Linked DNA regions of Homo sapiens: region 2 is linked to region 1. The links come from fine-mapping of genetic effects on gene expression. A gene starts in region 1. The other region holds a variant in brackets. All regions are shown on one strand. Distances are between the middles of the regions. Region 1 holds the start of SNX19 (sorting nexin 19). Region 2 overlaps SNX19 (sorting nexin 19).

The links. PIP is the estimated chance that this variant, and not a neighbour inherited with it, causes the effect. A credible set is the group of variants that fine-mapping cannot tell apart.
Region 2: its variant is the best candidate, but not a certain one, in a credible set for the expression of SNX19 in lung (TOPMed, PIP 0.57).

What each region holds. Positions count from the first base shown.
Region 1 is chr11:130,913,620-130,918,999 of GRCh38, reverse strand. SNX19 (sorting nexin 19) reads left to right here and starts at 2,521. Exons shown (of 11, transcript NM_014758.3): 1 at 2,521-4,734. The coding sequence starts at 3,061. RefSeq lists a silencer at 2,329-2,608 and an enhancer at 2,729-2,778.
Region 2 is chr11:130,884,092-130,889,471 of GRCh38, reverse strand. All of the region lies in intron 8 of SNX19 (sorting nexin 19), which reads left to right. Among named protein-coding and RNA genes, the nearest start is that of LINC02551, 25 kb to the right of the region's middle. The variant G/T (reference allele first, on the strand shown) is at 2,532.

The DNA.
Region 1 (5,380 bases):
TCCTGGTCTTCTATTTTGAGAGAAAATTCAAGTGGGGTGCGGGCTGGCTCTGGCAGGGCCTATGTCACGGGCCCCCCTGCTCTCATGGTCTCTGCCTGTTTCTTATGAGCAGGCCTCTGCCTGAAAGACCTTCCTTCTGTTTGCCCCTTGCTCTCGCTACCCAACATTTCCTAAAATACACTCAATTCTTTTTCATTTCCCAACTTAAGGGAAAACTGTCTATGAGCCACCCCCCTCCACAGCTGACCACCCGCTTTGTGTTTCGATTTTATTGTATGCACTTCTATTACAACACATCAGAACACATCACATTACACACGTGATCATGTTTCATTACGTTTATATATTTATGTGTCTCTCCTTTAACTAGACTGAGAGTCCCTTGAGGAGAATTATTGTATCTTATTTGTCTTGTTTTCTCCAACACTCTAGCACTATGCCTTTAATGTTTTGAGAAATAGGGAAAAGGAAAGAAGGAAGGACGTCTCCAGATGGTGAGTGGTGTGGCCAAGTCTCCCCACCCCACATACACACACCAGGGCACATCAGTCCTGACTCTCACCTCCTCCCAGTGATTAATCTGTTTGGAGACCAGGGTCTGCCCAGACCCCCAGGCAGGAGCTCACACCCGTCCAAATGACAAGTGCACGGGCATGTCCATCAAACCCGCTTCAGAATCAGGAAGGCACTCTTGGCTACCTTGATGCTCCAGACCATCTGGTCAGGTGGCATAGCGCCCACTTGCAAGGTCACTTCCTTACTGCCCTGAACACTCCAGATTATGCTGCCAAGTAAACTTTCTCTTTGAACTGCCACAGGAAGTCTTCAGCACCGTCGGTAGTCCCTTCATCATTCACATTTCTGTTTTAGCTCCCAACTAGGTGGCAGGGACTTTTCTCCAGAGCATTGTTGCCATTTTCTAAGTGCTCCTGAGGACATTAGAATGGTCTGGGAAGGTAGAGGGGCAGAGCCCACTTCTCGGGTTCCTTTTCTGCGGGAAGGCAGGCAGCAGTGAAAAGGTATGGACCGTGAAACCGTGGATTCACATTCTGCCATCTCACGGGAGTGCCCAGTCTGCTTAGTGGACACTGATCCTAAATCAAACCATTTGCTTTAGAAGTGATGAATCGTAAACTACGGGTCACATCTAAATGATGGCTTCTTTCGTATTCAAAGGAAGTCTCTGCCCCAACAGCAGCAATGGACGAGACAGGAAGCTGCAACGCACTTCTTGTTGGCAGAGTTTTGGGTTGGGATTTGTTTGAAGATTCCTTTAAACATCTAGGGAGTAGTCCATGATGATGAAAGACTGCTCACAGCACAGAGAAGGTGGACGAAGGGCAACCATGAGCAGCTCTGTGCAAACGATGCGAATCCTATGCCTAAATGGAAAGGAGACCCACCCTGCGGGCACAGCTCCTAGGGCCCAAGGTGGACATGGAAGCTGGCTTCACGCAAAACTGACACTAACACTTTTGACACCTGGTCAGTGCTTCCGGTATTTTGTCTTCCTATAGGTTCCTGTGTAGACAAGTGAAGTCTAATTTGCTAAAACCAAAAACAATCCAACATAGAGCATATTCCAAAGCAAATATATTACAGGATTATCTGAAAGGACACCTCTATCTCTGCTTTCCTTTTCTATGTTTTTGGGGAGGATAAGGCGAGAAGAGATAGAGGGAAATAGAAACCCTCATCCTTGAAGACTCAGCAGAAAGGCACCTTTTCTGTGAGCTTCTCCTTAACCATTGCAACCCACAGTGATCTCTCCTTCCCCTGAATTCCTATAAGATTTTGTATTTTACTATATCGCACGCTGACTGGCATTACTAGATAGCCAATCGCGTTCAAAGCGCTGGCATCCCCAGTTAGCAGGAGGTCCTGGAGGACAAGGTCTGCTTCTATTCGTCCACGCTGCCTCTCACATTGAAGACAGCAGATGCTCAAAATATTTGATTGTTTGTGTAATGCCACCAGCAAATAACCCTCAATCACAAATTTGATTTTGTGATACAGTATATGAAATGTACAACATAAATCTATCTCTGTATCGTTTCATGCCTTATATTCTGCAATTCCTGACAACAAATGAGGGTCTTTGTGCTGGGGACGCGGGGTACCGGCTCTAGGGGAAACCGGATAAATGTTAAGACACATCAGGCCAATGAAACTTCGCCTCCATGAAATTAAAATAAACCGGATTATTGACAGCGTGCCTAAGCAGTAAAGGACAGGCTTCATTTAATAACCAGAACTAGGACGCGTTTTAAAGCGCCTGGAAGTCTGGGTCTTAGCGGTGATTGCTGCGGCGGCTGTTTCGTGGCACTTCGGAAATCTGCGCCAGCTCTTGGCGAGCACGCGCCCCGTGCGCGCTCAGGCTCACGCTCAGGCTCAGAGACTACCTCGCGCAGGGCCGTCAGGGCGGCTCCTCGCCAGCAGAGGGCGCCGGGCAGCGCCGCTCCTCGGGGCGCGCGCGGACGCTCTCCCAGCATGCCTCGCTCCCGTCGACGTCGACCCGGAAGCTGTCGCCGGCGGCCGGCCGGCGGTCAGCCTTCACACAGGCCCGGCTGCGGAGCGCAGTCGCCCAGGTTTACGGCGGCAGAGGGCCGAGGCTCCCGGAGAGGACCGCGATGAGTCCACTTCAGGTCGGGGCTGAGTGTGGGCGCGCGGTTCCCGGCGGCGTGTGACCCAGTCTTCGCCGGCCGCTGCCCGCTGCGTGTGTAAGTGTCCGTGGGCCCCAGGGCCTTGCAGCGCCCGCCCCGAGGCCCCGAAGAGGCCTTCCGCCTGGGGCAGTGTGAAGGCCACAGAGTTTTCCTCCAAAGCCACACCTCAGCTGGAAGGGGCGAGTTGGAGGGCTCTGTTAGTGGTAGCCATGGGGAGACGCGGAGCTGCAGCTGTCGCTTTGCAGTGCCTGTAGGACTTTGAGGGCCTGGAGCCCCGGTTCCCTGAACAGCACCCAGATCGCCCCATATCTGAGACACAGTTCATGCCCCCCTTCCCTAACTCTGAAGTAAAATCTTGAGGGCTGTCATCTGGGGAAGCCACCTTGTCCGTTCAGCCATGAAGACAGAAACAGTGCCACCGTTCCAGGAAACTCCAGCTGGATCGAGCTGTCACCTCAATAACCTGTTGAGTAGCCGGAAGCTGATGGCTGTGGGGGTCTTGCTTGGCTGGCTCCTGGTCATACACCTTCTGGTCAACGTGTGGCTGCTGTGCCTTCTGTCGGCATTGCTAGTGGTGCTGGGAGGATGGCTGGGCTCCAGCCTCGCTGGAGTGGCTTCAGGTCGACTGCATCTGGAACGCTTCATCCCGTTGGCCACCTGTCCTCCATGCCCTGAGGCAGAAAGGCAGCTGGAACGGGAGATCAACCGCACCATCCAGATGATTATTCGAGATTTTGTGTTATCTTGGTACCGTTCCGTGAGCCAGGAGCCAGCCTTTGAGGAAGAAATGGAGGCAGCCATGAAAGGGTTGGTCCAGGAGCTTCGGAGAAGGATGAGCGTGATGGACAGTCATGCTGTTGCCCAGAGTGTTCTGACTCTCTGCGGTTGTCACCTGCAGAGCTACATTCAGGCAAAGGAGGCCACTGCAGGGAAGAATGGTCCAGTTGAGCCTTCCCACCTCTGGGAGGCTTACTGCCGGGCGACTGCCCCACATCCTGCTGTGCACAGCCCCAGTGCTGAAGTCACCTATACGCGTGGCGTTGTGAATTTGTTGCTTCAAGGGCTGGTGCCCAAGCCCCACTTGGAGACTCGTACCGGACGCCATGTAGTGGTCGAACTCATCACATGCAATGTAATCTTACCACTGATCAGCAGGCTGTCAGATCCTGACTGGATCCACCTTGTACTCGTGGGTATCTTTTCCAAGGCCAGAGATCCAGCACCCTGCCCAGCCAGTGCCCCCGAACAGCCCTCAGTGCCGACATCTCTGCCACTGATTGCTGAGGTAGAGCAGCTTCCAGAAGGGAGAGCTTCTCCAGTAGCAGCCCCAGTATTCCTAAGTTACAGTGAGCCAGAGGGTTCTGCAGGCCCCTCTCCAGAGGTTGAAGAAGGCCACGAAGCTGTAGAGGGAGATTTGGGTGGGATGTGTGAAGAAAGAAAAGTAGGAAACAACTCATCTCATTTCCTACAGCCAAATGTTCGAGGTCCCCTGTTCTTATGTGAAGACTCAGAGCTGGAGTCTCCGCTGTCTGAACTGGGCAAAGAAACCATCATGCTCATGACTCCAGGCAGCTTTCTCTCTGACAGGATTCAGGATGCCCTGTGTGCCCTAGAGAGTTCCCAGGCTCTGGAACCCAAAGATGGTGAGGCATCTGAAGGAGCAGAGGCTGAGGAGGGTCCAGGGACAGAAACAGAGACAGGCCTGCCGGTCTCCACACTGAATTCCTGCCCAGAGATCCATATTGACACAGCAGACAAGGAGATAGAACAAGGAGATGTTACCGCCTCTGTTACAGCTTTGCTGGAGGGGCCAGAAAAGACCTGCCCCTCACGGCCGTCATGCTTAGAGAAGGATCTCACCAATGATGTGAGCTCCCTTGATCCTACTCTGCCACCAGTTCTGCTTTCCTCCTCTCCACCTGGTCCTCTCAGCTCAGCCACCTTCAGCTTTGAGCCCCTAAGCAGTCCCGATGGTCCAGTTATCATCCAGAACCTTCGTATCACTGGCACCATTACAGCCCGAGAGCACAGTGGCACTGGATTCCACCCATACACACTCTATACTGTGAAGGTAACAGGATTAAAGCTGTGGGTGCTCACCCGGGCTAGGAGTGGGTTTGGAAAGCAGTCATGAAGCAAATGTTCTTGGGGGAGAGATGCTGTTAGTTTGAAGTGGTTCTTTCAATAGGCATCTATCTCTGTGAATGGTCTGAAGCTAATATGTAAGGCAGAGTAGCGTTTATCCTGTACTCACACAAGCAATCCTGGAACCTCAGGGCTGCTAGAATGCTGAGGGTTATATTTTCAGTGGTTCCCAAACTTGGCTGCACCTCAAAATCACTTGAGCTGCCTTTCAGATATACAGATTCTGACAGACTCTGTTGGATTCTGTATGAGAATTTCTAAGGAGGGGGTCCCTGGATTCTGTATTTTATTTATTTTCAAATAGAACTCTCCAGATAACATAGAGTCAGCCTGTCCTAAGGCCATCTTGGGGAATTGCCTCTCTAATCCAACCAACCCTCTTCATGTTATCTCTTGTCAAGTTGTTCCCAAGTCTGCTTACACACCTCCAAGAGTCAAAAACTTGCTATCTTCTGAGATAGACATAGGTAAATAACCTACCTTCCTAAAACAAAGTACAAAATGTACCAGTATTTTGAAAAAGAAATCAGCAGGGAAGAAGTTGAGAAAGAAAATTCTTGGACAAGATCCTA
Region 2 (5,380 bases), 30 kb after region 1:
TATTAAATGCTAAAGGAGATGTCAAAATGAATTACATAAGATTTCTGCCTTCAAAACCTTAAGAGTCTTTTTCTGGGGGGTCGGGGGGCATTTACAAGAAGCTCAACCAATGCTTTGAGTAAATGAATGAACAAATTAAACACCCATTTCCAATGAGGAAGAAAAAGAGTCAGCATCAAATGAAACCAGGGTAGTTAACTGCGATCAGATTCTAGGTGAACATATTTTAAAAACAGAAAGAGGGGACACATACTGAACAATGCAAAAATAGTAGTAATAGAACTAGTAAGAACAGGGTCCAGTAAGCTTCAACTCAGAAGGAGCTGAGGTTGTAGATAAATATTAAGGGAAAAGACTTAGGTGAAAAACACATACACGTGTCACATGTTACTAACAAGAAAAAATATATGTAGGTAATTGTTTGGGACAGATGCTGTAGTATCAACTGATTACATGGTGAAAGCATTTATTCATTCATTCAGCAGTGAATGAATGGGTCTATTATTTGCTAGGCTGTTTTCTATTTTCTTTGTCAAGGAAAATGGCCTAGCAAGAAGAATTGAACAGACATGATTAAAGTAGAATTGGCGACCAAAATAGAAATGAAAATAATAATAGAGCACGTAACCTATTTTAAAGTTTGTACATTTAAACCTGTACATGGCCTAGATGAATTATATCCCATGAAACTTAACAAATTTATATTTAACATTAAAGACCTAAGGTCATTAAGAAACATTGCCATTTGTCCATATGGGTTAGAGATGCACAGATATCTTGCCTTTTTAAAAAATGGTTAAAGGTTCTTGACCCCAACATTTATTTCTGGAAATTTCTGAAGCAGATGACGAAATAGATGTTTGTGAACATTTGGGAAGGGCAATGGGGAACCCTAGAAACCATTATGGGTTCAGTAGGAGTGTGCCCTGCCTGATTAGCATGCAGTTGTAGTTACATTGTGTATGGATTCCAACAAGTTTTTGCCATAATATCCATATGGACAGAATGGAATATGTTGCCTGCATTATAGTACATTTAAGTAATTTGTGGCTAGTCGAGTGTCTTTAGCCCAAGGGTATTAAATAATATCATAAACTGATGCCATCCTAGAGGGAAATTTCTAGTAATAGAGCACTGCTCTTCATCTTATCCTGATCAATTTTTTCATCAGAAAATTTGCAAGTAATTCTAATCTTAGAGGAGTAGTTAAAACTCTAGATGATGAAAATTAAGATTCAAAAACATTTAGAAAACTTAGAATGATAATCTAAAGCCAACAAGATGAACTATAATTTAGATTTTTTTTTAATTGCACAAATACAGAAGGGCAAGACTATACTTAACAGAGGGGCACACGATTTTTTTTTTTTTTGTAATGTACCTGTGTGGACTTAGGATTTTAGCTGGCTGAAAACTCAATATGAGTCAGTGCTTTTGACGTGTGTGCCAAAAAGCTAACACAATCTTCGGCTGTATGAGAAGTATAGTATCTAAATCTAAAGGAAGGCTCAATCCCCTATGTTCTTTGCTGGTCAGGTCACATCTCAGAGCTGTTTGGTTCTGGGCACATCATTTTAAAAGAAAAGCTAAGCAGCACACCCAGAGGATGGAGCCAGGTTGAGGAGTGGTTCATTTCTCTCCTTCTTTCATCAGACATTTATTGAGTGTCTTTGAGGTTGGCAAAATCACGGATGTATGGGATGTAGAAGAGACATAGGGGAGAAATAATAGCTGAATTTAAAAATGCAAAATGTTGTCTTTTGGAAGAGATTTAACCTAATATCTGGTAACTCCAGAGAGTAGAACTAGGACCAATGACTAGAATTCATTAACACAAGGAGGCCGATTTGGGTTGGCAAGGTTTAAGAAGCATCTTCAATGAATTTAGATTATGCTTTTAAGGAATTAAGCCACTTGCCTGAGGTCACATTGCTAATTGGGTAGCAGAACTAAGATAAAAGCCCAAGTTTCTGGATTCACAGGACCCAACCCTTGTCTATGCCGTTATATTACAGAGGAGGTTTCTGCTTTGGGAGGAGACTGGATAAAATAACCTCTAAGTTTCCTTCCAACTCTCAAGTTGTATGTTCTTATAAGCCACTTGATGTAAAATATTTCCTTTTGGTGCCCAATGCTTTCATATGTAGAGTTGGTGAGATTGGAAAAACCACTAAGGTTGAACAGATGATTTTTTGAAGTTCCTTCCTTAAGAATCCTTCCATTTTTTAATACATATTAATTTTATATCTGTGATGTGTACATTACTAATCAAAAACAAAAACTGTTTGTGGCTAGATATAAATGTATGGAACTCAGATTCTTATATTGTGGTATTTAGGAGAATGTCAAGTCTTCCCTTGAAGTACATGATTCAAAGATGTGGATCCATGATTTAAAACATGAAAGCAAAAATCAGAGAAGAAATTGTGCCAACTCTGAGCCATTTTAGATTTCACAGTAGTATTGGGAGAAAGAAGTGGTAGTTTCTTGCCCTCGGGGTTCATTTCCTCCTCATTCTTCCCCAGCACTGG[G/T]CAGGAAAGGATGGTGACCTAGATACACAGTCAGAGGGCAGCAGTGTTGAACTTTCTCAGACACAGCTGAGTAACTTGGGTCTGGATAGTTACAGGACAGAAGCCTAGAGCTGAGAGCTGACAGGGGAAACTGTCTATAAACACAAGAAGGGGCCATGGCAGGAAGACAGAGGCCTGGGAACGGCATCAGAGAGAAAAGAAGTATAACTTTTATCAGGTGTGAAATGGGCAAAAACATTTTGTTTAATGGATAATGTCCTGAATCTACACCATCACCTCCAAGACCTCCTTTCTCTCCCACCCTATAGATTGCTGCTACTGATTGGATGAGCCAATACTCATACTTATGTGCTAGGACTGGCAGTACAGAACACAGTGTTCATGGTTGAGGCCCCTGCAAACATTTTACAGGGTGCTTGGGTGGGTGGAGATGGGGAGCATTTCCAGGAAGCTAAAAATGTGGCTTGGGCTTCTCCTACTTTCTCTCGGAACTCCTAATTCTTGACACTGCATGAGTGTTTTTCAAACTTTTTTTAAAACTTCAACCTACAGTAAAAAATGCATTGTACGTTGCAGCCCACTGTGAGCATGCACATAGGCACAGGCGCATACACACATATGCATGCACGCAGATCTGATATATACATATATATGTACATACATACGAAACAAGTGTCTCCAAACATGAGATGCCTTTTTATGTTATCACAAACAACAAAACAGATGATATGACCTCTAATGATGTCCAGCCCACAGGTCGAAAAACATTGCGCTACAACCATGAGGTTTAAAATGACTGTGAAAGTAGCCTGATACAATTATATCCAAAAGTCCCTGGGTCTAAGGCAGTAATTCTCAACTGGAGCAATTTTGTCCTCAGGGGACATGCCGCAATGTTTGGAGACATGTTTGGTTGGCAAAACTAGCATCTAGTTTGAGGGGAGGAGGGGCAAGGATGTTGTGGAATGTTTTATAATGCACAGGAAAGCCCCTATGACAAAGATTTCGCAGTCCAAAATATCAGTAGTACCAACGTTGAAAACCCTGCTCTCAGGGTAATAAAATAAGTCAATACTTCTAATTTACTGAAGGTGTACTTAGGATGATAGAAGCTTTAACTTGATCTTCCTTTTCTTTCTCTTTTCCTTTGAACTGTATTTGGTATCTTAAGGTTGGAGCATAATTGCCCTTGGATTGTCTATAGAGGTACAGCCAATAGATAAATAGGCTGGAAGGAATGGACCTGTTATTTTCCTTATATTTAGACTGCACCAGGCATTTTTGTTTAGAATATTGTTGTGGATCTTATGAATATTTTCTGTTTTATGATTTTAGTATCTTCTTCCCTTTCTCCTCTTCATTAAGCCATACTGATTCAAGACCCTTTCTCACTCAGCCATAGCTGCTGTCTTAGAAAAGAAATGAAGGGGATTTGGCTAATTGGATTAGACATGGTCTCTAAAGCCTTCTCCTTACTCATGAGATTTGATTCTGCTGTTTTGATGGGAAATGACCTTCTACTAACCTTGAAGTGCCATCTTAAGCCCTAGTATTAAACTGTCTCCTTTTTAGTCATTGCTTCATTCCCCTATCTGCGGCTATTTCAGACCAGGTTCCCTTGAACATGGAGTGGATGTGCAGTCCCAGCTACTGACAAGCCCTGATCTCCACATCCTTTCTTCTCCCCTGTCTGGCATAAGGGAAGCTCTTGAATGTCTTGGGGTCAAAATGTGGTTGTGGAGTGGGGTTTTTTGGCCATTTTACTGGCTATTTCTAGGCCCCCTATTAAGGCTCTGAATCATTCAGAGATGGCTTGACACAAGAGACCTGGTTTGGGTTCTTTTTTCTTCTCTTCTTTGGGATGAAGGCAGGATAATAGAAAGAGATATCTCTAAATCAAATATCAGACCTGGAATAGTAGTGGAAAATAAAACCAGTGCTATCTGAGGCTATTCTCTACCATATTTATTTTAGCATATTTACTTCATGCATCTTGTATTACATGAACAAGAGCATTTGTATTTAGTAAATGATTTATTATAAGTAATTTTTTTTTTTTTTTTTTTTTTGAGATGGAGTCTCCCTCTGTCACCCAGGCTGGAGTACAGTGGCGTGATCTTGGCTCACTGCAGCCTCTGCCTCCTGGGTTCAAGCGAGTCTCCTGCCTCAGCCTCCCCGAGTAGCTGGAGACTACAGGCGTGCGCCACCGTGCCCAGCTAATTTTTTTTGTATTTTTAGTAGAGACGAGGCTTCACCATGTTGGCCAGGCTGGTCTAAACTCTTGACCTCAGGTGATCTGCCCGCCTCAGCCTTCCAAAGTGCTGGGATTACAGGTGTGAGCCACTATGCCCGGCCTATTATAAGTAATTTCTAATGAATAGTAAGAGAAACGTGTGTGTGTGTTGACCTTGAAGCTTTAGATTTCTGTCAGCCTAATAGTAAATGGTACCAGCAAAGTCCAGAAACTGATGCTGGAAAACCTCCTATGATGTATTAGAGTTCAGACACATAAATTCCATCCCTTCCACTTAAAGAGAGCTCTATAGGGTTACGAATCTCTTTTTAACCTTCCCACTCCTATGATAAGAATAGAAAGATGCAGTGTAGAAATCGCGAGATGAAGAGAGTTAATGGAGAGGAGTTGAGACTTCTGCCCCTTTTAACAATCCTACACCTAATGTCTTTGTCTTCCGTGCTCTAGCCAGTTTCCAAATAAATCAAGCATGATTAGGGGAGTTAATAAAGTTAGATAATGAAATGGTGGTGTGTATGGAGCTTTACCTTAGAGAAGGATGATAGAACCAAAGGAAGGGAAGGTAGGGATGAAAGGGAGAGGAAAGATATTTGGA